4 linked regions of the Homo sapiens genome follow. The protein of the gene in region 4 interacts with the protein of the main gene of each other region in a biochemical or structural test. Each region holds a gene or a part of one and is shown on either strand. Other genes may lie near its edges.

Region 1 (4,072 bases), on a different chromosome or scaffold from region 4:
ACCACATTTCCCAAAGGAAGCCTGGCCCAGGCACCCTGCCTCCTGCTCTGTTTGGGGATCAAGAACTGTAAATTTATGTATCATAGGTGCACCTGAGCCCCACAGAAAGTTGTGCATAAAAATGACTGCCCTGGCTGGGCATGGCTGCCTGTAATCCCAGCACTTTGGGAGGCTGAGGTGGGAGGATCCCTTGAGCCCAGGAGTTCCAGACCAGCCTGGGCAATATAGGGAAACCCTGTCTTTACAAAAAAAAATTTTAAAAATTACCCAGGTGTGGTGGTGTGCCTGTGTCCGGAGGCTGAGGCGGGAGGACCCCATGAGCCCAAGGGTTGGAGGCTGCAGTGAGCGCACTCCAGCTTGGGCAACAGATGACGGTGTTCAGAACAAGAACCTGCTACTCCTCTGTCACTTGGCGTGATGGTGATGGGCTACCTGGCCCTAGTGCAGGGCTTTTCCCATCTCACCCCTCAGGATCTGGGCCTCTGCCCCCACCTCCCATCCCGACAGACCACTGTCTCCAAGAGCAGAGCTTTAACTTCAGAATTTTAGTGTATGTACAAAAGTCCACAGCTCCAGCTGAAGGCCCCATTGTTCCGTGCTCGCCCCTGCCTTAGGACAGTTCAGCTTGCTATGTGCTTGTCCAGGCAGAGGGCACAGGAGTGCCAAGTTTCTATTAGTGTAACATGATTGATTTAAAAACAAAACAAAACAAAACAAAAACAAAAAAAACTGCTTATGCACTGTGAAAAAGGCTCAGGGACGAACCAGGGGCCCCCGAGCAGCCTTGCTGGTGAGGACACCCAAAACGGGCATGAGGCATAGCGTCCCTCATCCTCGCAAACCACCCACTCAGGCTCTTGAGCCCACGGCGCACCTCTCTCCGCGCGCACAGCGCTGACTGTCGGCGGCGCGCAGGCAGCTGAGAAAAGCTATGTACATCGAGGGGTTAGCACCAAGTAGGCGGCTGCTAGCTCCTGCTTGCCCCTGCAGGACCCCTCCTTTCCAGAAAAAAGTGGGGTTGGAAGGCGATCTCGCAGGACGGTCCTTAGAGCTGCCCGCAGGGGCGCAGCCTCATCTGAGAAGACTGGGCGCGGGCGGGAGGGCGGCGGGGCCGCAAAGCGCCTCCTCGATGTCCTCCAGGCAGCCCAGCAGGTCCATGTCGCGGAGCACGCGTCCCAGCAGCTCCAGCGTGGCCTCGCGCCGCGGCGTGCGCCGCCTCCAGGTCGCCAGCATGCTGTATTGCGCCTCGCGCAGGCAGCGCCCGTTCTGCAGCTCCAGCCGATCGATCTCGTGGTCGCTCAGCCCTAGGCGCCGCACGAATTCCTTCCAGCGCAACGGGGGCACGTTCTCCACCACGGCGTACAGCGTCGCGGGGTCATCAGCTGCGGGGACGCGGGCCGGTGAGCCTCGGGCGGCAACCCCAGGCCCCGCCCCGCATCCCGCGCCCTCCGCCTCTCGTGGTCCCCTCTGGGAGCGCCTCCCGCGCTCCCCCGGCCCTCCCCCAGCCTCCTCGTCTCCAGCCGCGGGAGAAACTCACTGTCTAGGCTCTGTGGCTTGTGGGCGCTGTCCTCCCACTTCTGAAGGGGGTTGGGGATGGGGTCGGAGGCGAGGGCTGTCGCAAGGATGGGGTCAGCCCCCTGATAGGGTGGTGCCACCTCTCTGCGGGGAGCCGCAAAGTTGGGACAGTCACCGGGGGTATAGGTGGAGCTGGAGGTGAAGGTGGAACTGGGCACGGGACTGAAGCCCAGGGTGGGGGTGAAGCCTGGAGTGGGACTGAAGCTTGGGTTTGGGGCCAGGGGCTTAGTAGTAGTTCCTTCAAGCTCCCCCTGAAAGAGAGAAGGTGGCGCAGCATTAGTGCGGCAGCGAAAACCAGCCCCGGCCCTCTTTATTCTACGTGGGGGTTGGGACTTAGAGGGAATGAGGCGAGCCCCCGGAAAGTGAAGGATGATTCCAGGGGATCTGAGCATTAGGCAATTATAAGGAATGGTCAGGGACATTTGGGAGTAACTCTCTCATTTCATCTCACCTCTTTTTCAGGTGTCGATTTCCCACAAACTGAGGAAAAAGAAAGAAAGCATCATAAATTTCACTTCCTCTCTCAGCCCTGGCACCCTGGACTCAGCTGGCAGTGGGGACTTGTGGTGACATGCCTCAGGGCCTATGTGGCCCCAGGGACGAGAGAGCTACTGATGCAGCTCGACATCTCCCCAGCCATCCAGGGCCACCTTCTGCCCAGAGTCCCCAGCGGTATGAACTGAGGGGACACTCCTCACCTCCCTCCACACATGTCCATCGCACCCACCCATGTCCTCCCTCACCCCCACCAGCTCCCTCTCCCTCCCAAAGCCCCCACTCACCAATGGAGTAGAGCTTGGACTTCCACCGTTGGTAGCGATACATTAAACCAATGAAGAGGAGGGATAAAAGGCAAAGACCAAAGAAAATGACCAGGGGCAACAGCACTGTGGTGCCTGCAGACAAAGCAGGTGTTGGTCAGAGGAGCGGGCAGAGGGGGGCCGCAGGGATAGATGGATGGGTGGGATGGATGGACGGGTGGGGGCAAGAAGAGGGAGAGGGCAGGTGAGCATGGGCACCAGGTCACTTCTCCTCACCTGAGTCCTCAGTGCCCTTAACATTCTCAATCTGGGGTAGGCACAACTTCGTGCACTCCAGGCTTTTCTTACAGCTAAAAGAAGAGACGGCACTGGTGAACAGAGGCCCTACCATTGGAGGAACACAGAAAAACAACCACACAGATTGTTGGACATCCTTTCTTTACAAATATTTTTGCTGTCTCTTGATATAATTTGTTTTGGGAACTGATGCAGAAGAATGAAACACAGTTAATCATAGAATCATTTAATTTTAGAATTGGCAGGGATCTTGAAAAGGCTGTGTAGAAAATGTGAAAAGCAGTCAGGGTCAGGGTGTAAATTCCAGTTCATTCCTTGGCTAGCAGTGTGAATCTAGGCAAGCCATTAACCCCCAAGCCTCGGTTTCCTCATCACCACAGGGATCGCCCACCTCTCAGGATTGAGGATTAAGCAAAATCATTATGCCTCATTTAATAAGTGCTTGAGAAGGTAGCCAGCTAGCTGTTATGGGATTGTTGTTTCATCACTGTTTTGCTGATAAGAATCCTTTGGCAAAGAGAGGTTAAAGGGCTTTTTCTTAAATGACACTGCTAGTTACAGTACCTGACTTCGGGGAGTCGGGGTCAAACATGCATGTGAAAAATTTAAAAACACATGTTACTGGGGCAGCCAGAGAGCACCCTGTAGAACTAGCAGATCTTCCATGTTGGGAGTTGTCACTGGACAGTGTGGAGTGATGGGAACTCTATGGGGTGGTGCTGGAAGGAACTTGAGAGAGTGAGTTCCCAGCAGGAAGCTGAAAGCAGGGAGAGGCACTTTAGCCCACCACTCAAGCTCATGGTGAGAACCACATAGAATGGTATAAAAGTGATTTCAAGAAGAGATGAAGCCGGCTGGGTGCAGTGGCTCACGGCTGTAATCCCAGCACTTTGGGAGGCAGAGGCAGGTGGATCACCAGGAGTTTGAGACCAGCCTGACCAAGATGGTGAAACCCCATCTCTACTAAAAATACAAAAATTAGCCAGGCATGGTGGCACGTGCCTGTAATCCCAGCTACTTGGGAGGCTGAAGCAGGAGAATTGCTTGAATCTGGGAGGCAGAGGTTGCAGTGAGCCGAGATCGCGCCACTGCATTCCAGCCTGGGCGACAGAGCAGGACTCTGTGTCAAAAAAAAAAAAAAAAAAAAAAAAGAAGATTAATGGAAAATAAATAGTTTTGTGTCAGACGTGTTGTAGGTTTTGTTTGTTTCTTTGTTTTTGGTTCTCACAAATTCACCAAATGAATGTCATTATGCTTACTTTAAATATAAGAAATCTAAGGCCCAGGCCAGGCGTGGTGGCTCATGCCCGTAATCCTAGCACTTTGGGAGGCTGAGGCGGAAGATCGCTTGAGCCCAGGAGTCCGAGGCCAGCCTGGGCAATATAGTAGGACCCTGTCTCTACAAAAAGTAAAACATTAGCTGGGTGTAGTGGTGTGTG
Region 2 (3,766 bases), on a different chromosome or scaffold from region 4:
AGGCACATAGTAGGTACACTGCAAATGATGAATGAGCAAGTGATGAAGAATTCCATGGGCTCTAATGCCAAGTATAAATGCTTCTAAGAATGAGTGGCGAAGTGAGTCAACAGAAACATGCTGGCCTCCAACAGTGTGTGGGGCCCAGGGACCCATCACTGAGAGCTGGGTGGGATGGCTGAGGGTACTCAAGAGGGAGCAGTCACTTCTAGCTGGGAAAACAGCTTCATGGAGGAGGTGGCATCTGGGCTGAGCCTAGAGGAATGGGAGGTTGAACTGGCCCCTTTCCCAGTAGGCTCTGTGTGCACTGGGCATGCAGAGTATGTTCTAGATGGTAAGGTGGCTGCTCTGCAGAGGGTCTCATTCCTAGGGTGGGGCAGGGGAAGCCCCACTCTGAATATTTCGGGCATACAGGCCGGAGGGTGAATGGGCAAGAAAGTGGAGGACTCCTGCTTCCTGATTTGGAAGGCATTGGGAAAATAGAGTGGTGTTTTGGGGGTAGGGTGATAGGAGCAGAAGAGACTCTGTTGGACTCTGGGCTAGCAGATTCCTTGCCAAACAATGGCCTTATAGAGGTGTTAGTAGGTAATAATTCACTCAGCTAGTCAGCAAATATTTATTGAGCACATAGTGTATGCTAGAGATTGTAACGCATCCAAAAATCAATGCCCCACATTTCTTGCCTTTTTTTTTTTTTTTTTTTGAGACGGAGTCTCGCTCTTGTCACCCAGGCTGGAGTACAGTGGCTCAATCTCAGCTCACTGCACCCTCCACCTCCCAGGTTCAAGTGATTCTCCTGCCTCAGCTTTCTGAGTAGCTGGGATTACAGGCATGTGCCACCATGCCCAGCTAATTTTTTGTATTTTTAGTAGAAACGGGGTTTCGCCATGTTGGCCAGGATGGTCTCGAACTCCTGACTTCAGGGGATCCGCCCACCTCGACCTCCCAAAGTGTTGGGATTATAGGTGTGAGCCACCGTGTCCGGCCATTTCTTGCTCTTAAAGAATTCGTCCTCTGGGAGAGAAAAGTCAATCTGCGCATGTCTGGCAATGACACAGGACCAGGGCTGCTGTAGTTGAGGGTGTACTAGGTGCTACCAGAGGATGCCCAGTATTGGGTAACATTTATTGAGTGCACATGGATGCCAGGTGCTAACCTAGAGGATTCATGTGTCCTCTCCTTTAATCTAACCACCTTGTGCAATGGGTACTATTGGCCAGATAAGAAAACTGAGGCACCTTGAGGTTAGGTGGATCATGAGTTAATAACCAGTGTATTGGTCAGGATTCTCTAGAAAAAACAGAACCAATAGAATATACAGTCGGTCCTCCATATCCGTGGGTTCCACATCTGTGGATTCAACTAACCTCAGTCTGAAAAATATTAAAAACAACATAAAAAGATGTTATGTCTGTACTGAACATGTACAGATTTTTTTTCTTGTCATTATTCTCTAGATGATATAATCTAATAAATGTTTACATTGTCTTGGGTATCATAAGTCATCTGGAGATGATTTAAAGTATAGGGGAGGATGTGCTGTGCAGAGGTTATTTGCATATATGATGTCATTTTATAATCAGGGACTTGAGCATCTGTGGATTTGGGTATCGGCAGGAGGTCCTGGAGCCAATCTGCCCTGTGGATATTGAGAGATGGTGTCTATTTATATATATATATATACACACACATACACACACACACACACACACACACACACACATATATATACACGCACACACACACTATATTAAAATAACCCCACCTCTACTAAAAGATACAAAAAAATTAGCTGGGCATGGTGGCATGCGCCTGTAGTCCCAGCTACTCAGGAGGCTGAGGCAGGAGAATTGCTTGAACCCGGGAGGCGGAGGCTGAAGTGAGCCGAGATCGCGCCACTGCACTCCAGCCTGGGCAACAAGAAGGAAACTCCATCTCAAAAAAAAAGAAACAAAACACTACCAGCACCCTGGAAAGCACCCCCAGTCTCTATGCTCCACCACCCCCATCCCCAGCTCCCAGGGCCTCTGCCACGCGGGCTTCTTTTTTTTTTTGAGACAGAGTCTCGCTCTGTCACCCAGGCTGGAGCACAATCTCAGCACAATCTCACCTCACCGCAACCTCTGCCTCCTGGGTTCAAGCAATTCTCTGGCCTCAGCCTCCTGAGTAGCTGGGATTATAGGCTCGCGCCACCACACCCAGCTATTTTTTTGTATCTTTAGTAAAGACGGGATTTCACTATGTTGGCCAGTCTGGTCTCGAACTCCTGACCTTGTGATCCAGTTGCCTTGGCCTCCCAAAGTGCTGGGATTACAGGCGTGAGCCACTGTGCCCAGCCCCTTGCAGGCTTCTGACAGCACAGATGGTTTTGCCCGCTTTCCTACTCTGTGGGCTCATCCACCTCATATGTGTGTGCTGCCTCCGTGTTGCTTCTGCTAAGTGGCAGTCTGGTCATTCTTTGTATTTGTCCTTTCTACTGTGGATGGGCCTTTGGGGGTTTCTAACTGTGGGCCATGATGTGCAGTGTTGCCTGTGAACATTCTGGCCCATGTTCGTGAATGTGAATGCGTATCTCTATTGGACCTGGGCCTGGGAGTGGGATTGCTGGGCCAGAGGGGATGCACGTGTTCAGCTTGAGGAGATACCGCCGTGCCGCACAGCTTTCCAAAGTGGTTGTGCCAATTCACGCCTCACCTCCCCCAGCCACGCAGAAGAGTTCCAGTTGCCCCATATCTTCACCAGCACTTTGGGTTTTCCATCCTTTTCATTTTAGCCATTCTGACAGGCACACAGTGGCGTGACATTGTGCTTTTAAGTGGCACTTCACGGAAGAGTCTTGACCAACGCCATGGTGTGATGGGACGCCCCCAGCTCACCACGTCTCCCCTGTTTCTTACAGGCCGGGTGCTCGTCCACTGCCGGGAAGGTTATAGCCGCTCCCCAACGCTAGTTATCGCCTACCTCATGATGCGGCAGAAGATGGACGTCAAGTCTGCCCTGAGCATCGTGAGGCAGAACCGTGAGATCGGCCCCAACGATGGCTTCCTGGCCCAGCTCTGCCAGCTCAATGACAGACTAGCCAAGGAGGGGAAGTTGAAACCCTAGGGCACCCCCACCACCTCTGCTCGAGAGGTCCGTGGGGGAGGCCGTGGGCAAAGGTGTCCCGAGCTGCCATGTTTAGGAAACACACTGTACCCTGCTCCCAGCATCACAAGGCACTTGTCTACAAGTGTGTCCCAACACAGTCCTGGGCCACTTTCCCCACCCTGGGGAGCACATAAAGAAGCTTGCCAAGGGGGGCGTCCTTGCTCCCCAGTTGTCCTGTTTCTGTAACTTATGATGTCTTTTCCCTGAGATGGGGGCTCAGAGGGGGAAGGCCTGTGGCCTGCATGCTTCCCGATGGCCCACGGCAGGAGGTGTGTGGAAGTGTAAGGCCTAAGATGCTCACAGAGGTCCCTCATGACCTCCCTTCCCCAACTCCCGAATCCTCTCTTGAGTGTGGACCTCAACACCTTGAGCCCTAGTAAAGGAACTATGCAAATGCAGGCCACTCTCCCCACCACGTCTGTGCCCTGCACTGTCCCCACAGCCTTCCACACCCTGTGCATAGGCAGCCCTCTCACGTCTTGAGGTCCGAAGCTGGGGTGGGGGTGTCCGTCAGTTATTAGTGGATGGAGATTCCCACAGCAAGGCTGCATTTGAATGATTTCCTTAGGATGAATGGTCCCTACACAAAGAGGCCTTGTGGGCAAACCTGGAGAACCCT
Region 3 (3,766 bases), on a different chromosome or scaffold from region 4:
AAAACAACAATGCTACACAATCATTTAAAAACACACTGGAAAAATTTAAAAGGTAGAGGTAGTCAATATTTCATTTATAGTAAATGAAATACAAAACGAAGTATTTGTGGTTCATACTAATATATTGGGGTGATTTGTTTTTAGAAACCCAAACTATTTGATAGAAATAAATTTTAATTAAACTGGTTTTTCCTAAATTGCAGAAAGTTAAATCCACGTACTACTATTTTGTAATTTAAAACATTAACATACCTGCCATCCATTCAATGAAGAGATTGTAATTGCTCTTCTCACACGTGGCTCCCAACATCCTAATGATGTTTGGATGATTCAGATGGCTCATCATTCTTATCTCTTCTCTTAGTGCTTCTACTACTTCTTCTTGCTCAGAAGATGTGTTTCTGACATAAGTCACCTGTTTCAAATAAACACGTTCACAAAGTTTTGCATATTTTCACTAGCAATCTGATCTAAAATGAACAAATGCAAACTAGCACTTTATTAGCAACAGATGGCATTTATGCTTATGGATGCAATGTACTTTAAACAAACCCAAGTCAAACTCTTTTAAACACTAAGAATCTAGCTTAAGCAGCAGTAAACATCAGAAAAATGACAAAAATATTGGGATATAGTCAATATTCCAATAGTCTCAGAGTAAAGATGAGAAAAGCCCAAATATGGGAGAAGAATCAACATGATTTAAAAATGAAAGTTTAATAATTTTCCTATCCTGATTAAGTATGCTCGTTATAATAAAAAGTAAACCACTGAAACCCCAAGATGGCACCGCACAAGTACACTGTTGAAAGAAGTACCTGAAAACCACCTCTACTACCTACAAAAAGCAAAACCAAAAAAACCTTTGTAAGGCCCATCTTGATATTGTAGTCTTACAATAATCATACTTCAACTTTTATTTATTTTTTTTTGAGACAGTCTTGCTCTGTTGCTCAGGCTGGAGTACAGTGGTGCGATCTCGGCTCACTGCAACCTCTACCTCCTGAGTTCAAGCAATTCTTCTGTCTCAGCCTCCTGAGTAGCTGGGACTACAGGTGCCTACCACCCTGCCCGGCCGATTTTTGTATTTTTAGTAGAGGTAGGGTTTCACCATGCTGGCCAGGCTGGTCTTGAACTCCTGGCCTCAAATGATCCAACCACCTTGGCCTCCCAAAGTGCTGGGATTACAGGTGTGAGCCACCACGCGTGGCCTCAACTTTTAACAATAACAGAATTCATGATGTTTCTGGTGCTTTAGAAACATCTACTTTGAAACTAAGTTTCTCAAAGTTTAAAGAACTAAAGTACACACACGTGGACATATCCTTTATTCTTTTTACTGAACATGCTTCATTTTGTGATTTGAGTCATTTCATTTATATGCTCACTAGATATTTACCTGTTTAACAGCCATTAAAGTTCCAGTTCCCACATCTTGAGCCTGATAACAAGAAGAAAATGCTCCAAGGCCTATCTGTTGACCTTTCAGCCATTCAGTGTCTTCTCTATACGGTTGTTTTGCTTTGGTATGTCCTGGTAGAGTCTCTGGTGTCTACATATTAAACGAAAGCAATCTTTTTACTGTTAAAGGAGTAAGATTTTGTGAAATTAGTCTGCAAGATATTATTCTTATTCAGTCTGGCTTCCCAAACCACCTATAAATGTGACCTCTGAATGGAAGGTATTTGTGACCGACAGCAAATGCAAAAGTAATCACCATTATACAATTAACCGGAAATGCCCATAGGCAAGAATTATTGCTGTTTAAACAGTACAAACATTATTGTTGTATAAGTAATAATTTTATGTGGAAAACTCTGCTTCTGAATGTTAGAAGCAGCATTTCTGAATTAGGTTTATTTTAGTATGGTCCAAGGAAGCTCTCTGTGAGACAGTGTCTTGCTCTGTCATTCAGGCTAGAGTACAATGGTGTAATCACAGCTCACTGTAGCCTCAAACTCCCAGGTTCAAGTGACCCTCCCCACCTCAGCTTCCTGAGTAGCTGGGACCCCAGGTGTACACTATCATGCCTGGCTAATTTTTAAAATTTTTTGTAGAGACAGGGTCTTGCTTTGTTGACCAGGCTAGTTTCGAACTCCTGTGCTCAAGCAATCCTTCGGCCTCAGCCTCCCCAAGTGCTGGAATTCCAGGTATGAGTCACTGTGCCCAGCCCCAAGGAAGTTTTCTAACCTCTTAAAGAATCTATACTTACATCCTGTTGAATAATGATGATATCTTCTCCATTTTCAACCTGCAGCTGAGGAACTATGGGGAGGGCATCCTGAGACGCTGACATTGCCATGGCAATTGCTAAAGCTTCTTCTTCTTCAGCTTCCATCTTCTCTTTGCACTTTTGATTATGATTCACATCATCTTTGTAGGTATCATCATTTTCAGCCTTTTCAGGAGACAGGACAGCAACTTCTGACTTAAAAGTTACTGTTGTATCACTTGAAGGCATAGATGCTTCAAGAAGGTCCTCAATACTGGAGTTGAGCTCTGTATTGACATCTAATCTGCATTTCTCCTCTACTGGGGTGAACACTGTCTCGTCACTGGGTATAACAGCATTACTACTATTGCTGCTACAGCCAAAGCTGTCATCACATTTGGAACTACTGTTCAGATCAAGTGTCATGCTATTTTTTGAGGGATCTCCCTGTTTACTTGTATTACCTGGGGTAGGTCTAGATGGCTTTGGCCTGTGTATGTTACTGGAGGGCAAGGGTCTTGACTGAGTAAAGACTGGGGAAAGTTTATCTGAGTCTTTGTTTTCAGGACAGTTTCTGTGGAATTGTAGAGAAAACTTGCGCTGTGTTTGAGGAGATGCAGAAGGTATTCTGCAGGGAATGAATCCCTGAAGTCTATGCTTAGAGACATCTGTTGCAGTGCCAGCTGGTACAGATGGGGTAGAAGAAGAAGGGGTTGACAAGGCTGGAAACATTAATTGGGAATGATGAGATAAAGGAGAGGAGTTCAAACACTGACTGTGGGGTCTGCCTTTTGTTTGAACCATTGGCTTTGGTTGCTCTGTTGTTGTTGTTGTTGTTGTTGTTGAACTAGAAGGTCCTACTGAAATGCTGGCCAGTCTCTCAGAAATGTCCTCTGAACTGGCACTCAATTTTGTAGCACATAATCCTTTTCCAGTTTTCTCTAAATGGACTGTGCACTCAGGGGAACTGTTCTCTGTGGTTTCCAGATAGTTGTTGGGAACAGATGCCTGCAAGAAGCTGTCCTGTTGACCATCCAAAGTGTCTTCTACGCCCAACTGGATGGCTTCGGCAATTTCCACCTCATCTGCAATAGCCATCAAACGGCGACGCATCCTGGTGAAGTGAGTGGAACTGGAAACACTCAGCATTTCTAACAGTTTTGAAAACACATGGGGTACTGTAGTAACCATTCTTGCAGAACTCAAGTAGATCCTTCTGGAAAGTTTGCCAACCATTGAGTGGGAATTATCAATGGACTGCAAAGCAAAGGTTAAGAGGGACAGCAGCTTCTTATACCTGAAAGAAAAAAACATTCATTACCATATAAGTTCCAATTACTGAAAAATACATGGAAACTTAAAAAATGGTAGTAATTTACAGCATGTATACTTCAAAAACCATTTCAGCATAAAGTATCTATGAATTTTTAATTAAAGAGCCCAGACTTTGGGTTTTCATATGTCAATCAAATATTAAGGTATCAGCAACCTATTCATGCTCTGAGTCTTTCAAAAATCTAAAATGTGTCATTCTTGAGGAGGGTGTAGGGAGGG
Region 4 (3,766 bases):
GTCAGGAGTTCGAGATCAGCCTGGCCAACATGGCAAAACCCTGTCTCTGCTAAAAATACAAAAAATTTAGCTGGACATAGTGGCAGGCACCTGTGATCCCAGCTACTCAGGAGGCTGAGGCAGGAGAATCGCTTGAACCCAGGAGGTGGAGGTTGCATGAGCTGAGATCGTGCCATTGCACTCCAGCCTGGGTGACAAAGCAAGACTCCGTCTCAAAAAAAAAGGACGGGTTCTCATTCTGTCACCCAGGCTGGGGTACCGTGGCACCATCTCGGCTCACTGCAACCTCCGCCTCCTGGGCTCAAGGCCATCCTCCCACCTTAGCCTCCCAAGTATCTGAGACTACAGGCACGTGCTACTGCTCATGGCTGATTTACTTATTTATTTTTGTGCTTTTCATAGAGACAGGTTGTTGTGTTTCTTTAGTCTCCTTTAAGAGTGCAGATGAGCTATTTTGTAGAATGCCCCTCAGTTTTGGGTCATGCATTTTTAACATGAATACCAGAAAAGCACTTCATTGTATTAGAAGGCACTTCTGGAGCCAGGTATGGTGCCTCATGCCGTAATCCCAGCTCTTTGGGAGGCTGAGGCAGGAGGATCATTTGAGCCCAGGAGTTTGAAACCAGCCTGGGCAAATAGTGGGACCCCTTCTCTACAAAAAATTTAAAAATCAACCAGGTGTGGTGGTGTATGCCTGTGGCCCACCTACTGTGTGCCAGCTACTCAGTAGTGCCAGCTACTCAGGACCTGGCTGAGGTGAGAGGATCACCTGAGACAAGGAAGTTGAATTTGCAGTGAGGCATGATTACACCATTGCACTTCAGCCTGAGTGACAGAGTGATGACACCATCTCTTAATTTTAAAAGAGTCAGCTTATATTCCTTGGAGAAACATCTTTTTTGCACCATTGTTATGATTCAGACAGAATCCTTCCATGATTTTTTTTTTTTTTTTTTAATTTTTAGAGAAAGGGTCTCACTCTGTCACCCAGGCTGGAATGCATTGGCTCGGTCACAGCTCACTGCAGCCTCCAATCCCTGGGCTTAAGTGATCCTCCCACCTCAGCCTCCCGAGTAGCTGGGACTGCAGGTGTGAGCCACCATGTGTGGCAAAATAATAATAATAATGATAATAATAATAATAATTAGTTAATACCCAGTGTTGTTGAGGACATGAGGAAATGCATTTTCTTTCACATGCTGCTATTAGGAGTGTAACAGTGCAACTGCAGTCATAGTTCACTGCAGCCTCAAACTCCTGGCCTCAAGCAGTACTCCCACCTCAGCCTCCCAAAGTATCCTCCCATGACTTCTAACAGGATTCCTTTAAAAGAAAACATATTCCTGAAAAATGAATAGGAAAAGAAGATGAGAATTCTTTTATTTTATTTTATTTGTTATGTTATGTTATATGTTATGTTATGTTTTATGTTATGTTTATGTTATGTTATGTTATGTTATGTTATGTTATGTTATGTTATGTTATATGTTATGTTATGTTATTTTTGGAGATGGAGTCTCCCTGTGTTGCCCAGGCTGGAGTGCAGTGGTGCAATCTCGGCTCACTGCAACCTCTGCCTCCTAGGTTCAAGCAATTCTCCTGCCTCTGCCTCCCAAGTAGCTGGAACTATGGGTGCCCACCACCACGCCCGGCTAATTTTTGTAGTTTTAGTAGAGACAGGGTTTCACTATGTTGGCCAGGCTGATCTTGAACTTCTGACATCAGGTGATTCGCCCGTCTCGGCATCCCAAAGTGCTGGGATTACAGACGTGAGCCACCATGCCCAGCTGAGAATATTTTAGAAGAGATTGGTAAAATATGATGGAGCTAGCACACACTCCCCCAAACCCAGAAAAGGTTTTTAGACCTTTTTTCTTTTTCCAGCTCCAATTTATGACAATTCTAAATCTGTCTCTCAAATTGTTTCAAAAAAGGACGGATGTATACTTTGGAAATTCTAATTTAATAAGTTAATCAACTTTGTGGGTTTGTTGTTGTTTTGAGACAGAGTCTCGCTCTGTCACCCAGGCTGGAGTGCAGTGGCACGATCTTGGCTCACTGCAACCTCTGCCTCCTGGGTTCAAGCAATTCTCCTGCCTCAGCCTCCCACGTAGCTGGGATTACGGGCACCCACTACCATGCCCGGCTAATTTTTTTGTATTTTTAGTAGAGATGGGGTTTCACCATGTTGGCCAGGCTAGTCTCAAACTCCTGGCCTCAAGTGATCCGCCCGCCTCGGCCTCCCAAAGTGCTGGGATTACAGGCATTAGCCACTGTGCCCAGCCCAAGTTAATCAACTATGAAGAGAAAAATAAAATCACATAATCTTGGTTGTTCAGCCTCTCATAAGAAAGCCAAATTGTTTTTTGCTTTTCCATGTTGTTTACTTGTATTTCTGAATTGTAGAGTCAAAGGAGAAGTTCAGAGTCCCATCAGCAATGCACCTGTCATACAGGAAGATCTCATCATGTCCTGTAACACCAGATACCATTTTCAGTCTTTTCTCTCTTTCTCCTGCAGGGCTACACCAAGTCCATTGATATTTGGTCTGTAGGCTGCATTCTGGCAGAAATGCTTTCTAACAGGCCCATCTTTCCAGGGAAGCATTATCTTGACCAGCTGAACCACATTTTGGGTAAGGTTCCCGAGCCCTTCAGGAGCTAGATTTACTCAAGTTTGTACAGCTTACATCAAAGTCACTTCATTAAATTAAGAAGAGTTCTAATATACTCTTTAACCTGTGGTAGGTGTGAATTTTTAACCTTCTCTGATTTAAAATGTTAAGGACTTTTGTGTAAAAACATAAGAAAGGTAAACATCAGGAGTGGTGATAAGCAACGGCTCATATCAATTATCAGGGTTCATTCCGACTCAGAGTTGATGGTGTGTAGTCATTTACCTTGGTCCTGATAACTAATAGCTAATTTTTTTATCTGATAGGTATTCTTGGATCCCCATCACAAGAAGACCTGAATTGTATAATAAATTTAAAAGCTAGGAACTATTTGCTTTCTCTTCCACACAAAAATAAGGTGCCATGGAACAGGCTGTTCCCAAATGCTGACTCCAAAGGTAAATGTTATTTCGTTGATTAGTTTTTTCTTAGGCTTAGCTTCGCGTTTATTTGTTAAATTGTTAGGTCACTAGCCTGAAAAATGAGCCTATGGCTATTGGATAATGCTTTCTTTAGTGCTCACTCTGAATTGTTGTCTTCCCCCTTTTTTTTTTTGGAAACAGTGGCAGTGCAGTAAGGGAACCTGGTAATGACGGTCTAGTTCTCCACCTTTTGGTTTCTTTGCTAATTTTAATTTGCATTAAGGTCACTTTTTTTTTGTTTTTGTTTGAGACAGTGTCTCACTCTGTCGCCCAGGCTGGAGTGTAGTGGCCCGATCTCGGCTCACTGCAACCTCCTCCTCCCGGGTTCAAGCGATTCTTCTGCCTCAGCCTCCCAAGTAACTGGGACTACAGACGCGTACCACCACGCCTGGCTCATTTTTGTATTTTTAGTAGAGACAGGGTTTCACCATGCTGGCCAGGCTGGTCTCGAACTCCTGACCTTTTGATCTGCCCACCTTGGCCTCCCAAAACTGGGATTACAGGCGTGAGCCACAGCGTTCAGCCTAAGGTCACATTTTTAGGTCTCAGGAAGTCTAGGACCCTGCAAACAAATTACACCTTTTCATCTTGTCACTTGATAATTTTTAAAATCAGGTTTATTGAAGAATAATTTACACAGAATAAAATTCACACTTTTTAGTTGTGTGGG

Evidence for each region. The genes of interacting proteins can lie anywhere in the genome.
Region 1: the proteins of MAPK1 (region 4) and TNFRSF1A form a complex in vitro, tested with the Homo sapiens proteins (2 studies listed by BioGRID, with this or other methods).
Region 2: of the proteins of MAPK1 (region 4) and DUSP3, one has a biochemical effect on the other in vitro, tested with the Homo sapiens proteins (2 studies listed by BioGRID and IntAct).
Region 3: of the proteins of MAPK1 (region 4) and MAP3K1, one has a biochemical effect on the other in vitro, tested with the Homo sapiens proteins (3 studies listed by BioGRID).

Annotation. Positions count from the first base shown.
Region 1 is NC_000012.12:6,328,241-6,332,312, forward strand, and holds the end of TNFRSF1A (tumor necrosis factor receptor superfamily member 1A isoform 1 precursor), read right to left. Parts: intron 3,754-4,072; exon of another isoform or gene 3,728-3,753; coding exon of another isoform or gene 3,636-3,727; intron 2,687-3,635; coding exon 2,613-2,686; intron 2,472-2,612; coding exon 2,358-2,471; intron 2,056-2,357; coding exon 2,027-2,055; intron 1,827-2,026; coding exon 1,538-1,826; intron 1,383-1,537; coding exon 1,072-1,382; 3' UTR 531-1,071; downstream 1-530.
Region 2 is NC_000017.11:43,768,948-43,772,713, reverse strand, and holds part of DUSP3 (dual specificity protein phosphatase 3), read left to right. Parts: intron 1-2,899; coding exon 2,900-3,105; 3' UTR 3,106-3,766. UniProt on the Homo sapiens protein: Shows activity both for tyrosine-protein phosphate and serine-protein phosphate, but displays a strong preference toward phosphotyrosines. Specifically dephosphorylates and inactivates ERK1 and ERK2.
Region 3 is NC_000005.10:56,881,313-56,885,078, reverse strand, and holds part of MAP3K1 (mitogen-activated protein kinase kinase kinase 1), read right to left. Parts: intron 3,510-3,766; coding exon 2,213-3,509; intron 1,553-2,212; coding exon 1,400-1,552; intron 416-1,399; coding exon 253-415; intron 1-252. UniProt on the Homo sapiens protein: Component of a protein kinase signal transduction cascade. Activates the ERK and JNK kinase pathways by phosphorylation of MAP2K1 and MAP2K4. May phosphorylate the MAPK8/JNK1 kinase.
Region 4 is NC_000022.11:21,787,563-21,791,328, reverse strand, and holds part of MAPK1 (mitogen-activated protein kinase 1), read left to right. Parts: intron 1-2,520; coding exon 2,521-2,635; intron 2,636-2,940; coding exon 2,941-3,072; intron 3,073-3,766. UniProt on the Homo sapiens protein: Serine/threonine kinase which acts as an essential component of the MAP kinase signal transduction pathway. MAPK1/ERK2 and MAPK3/ERK1 are the 2 MAPKs which play an important role in the MAPK/ERK cascade.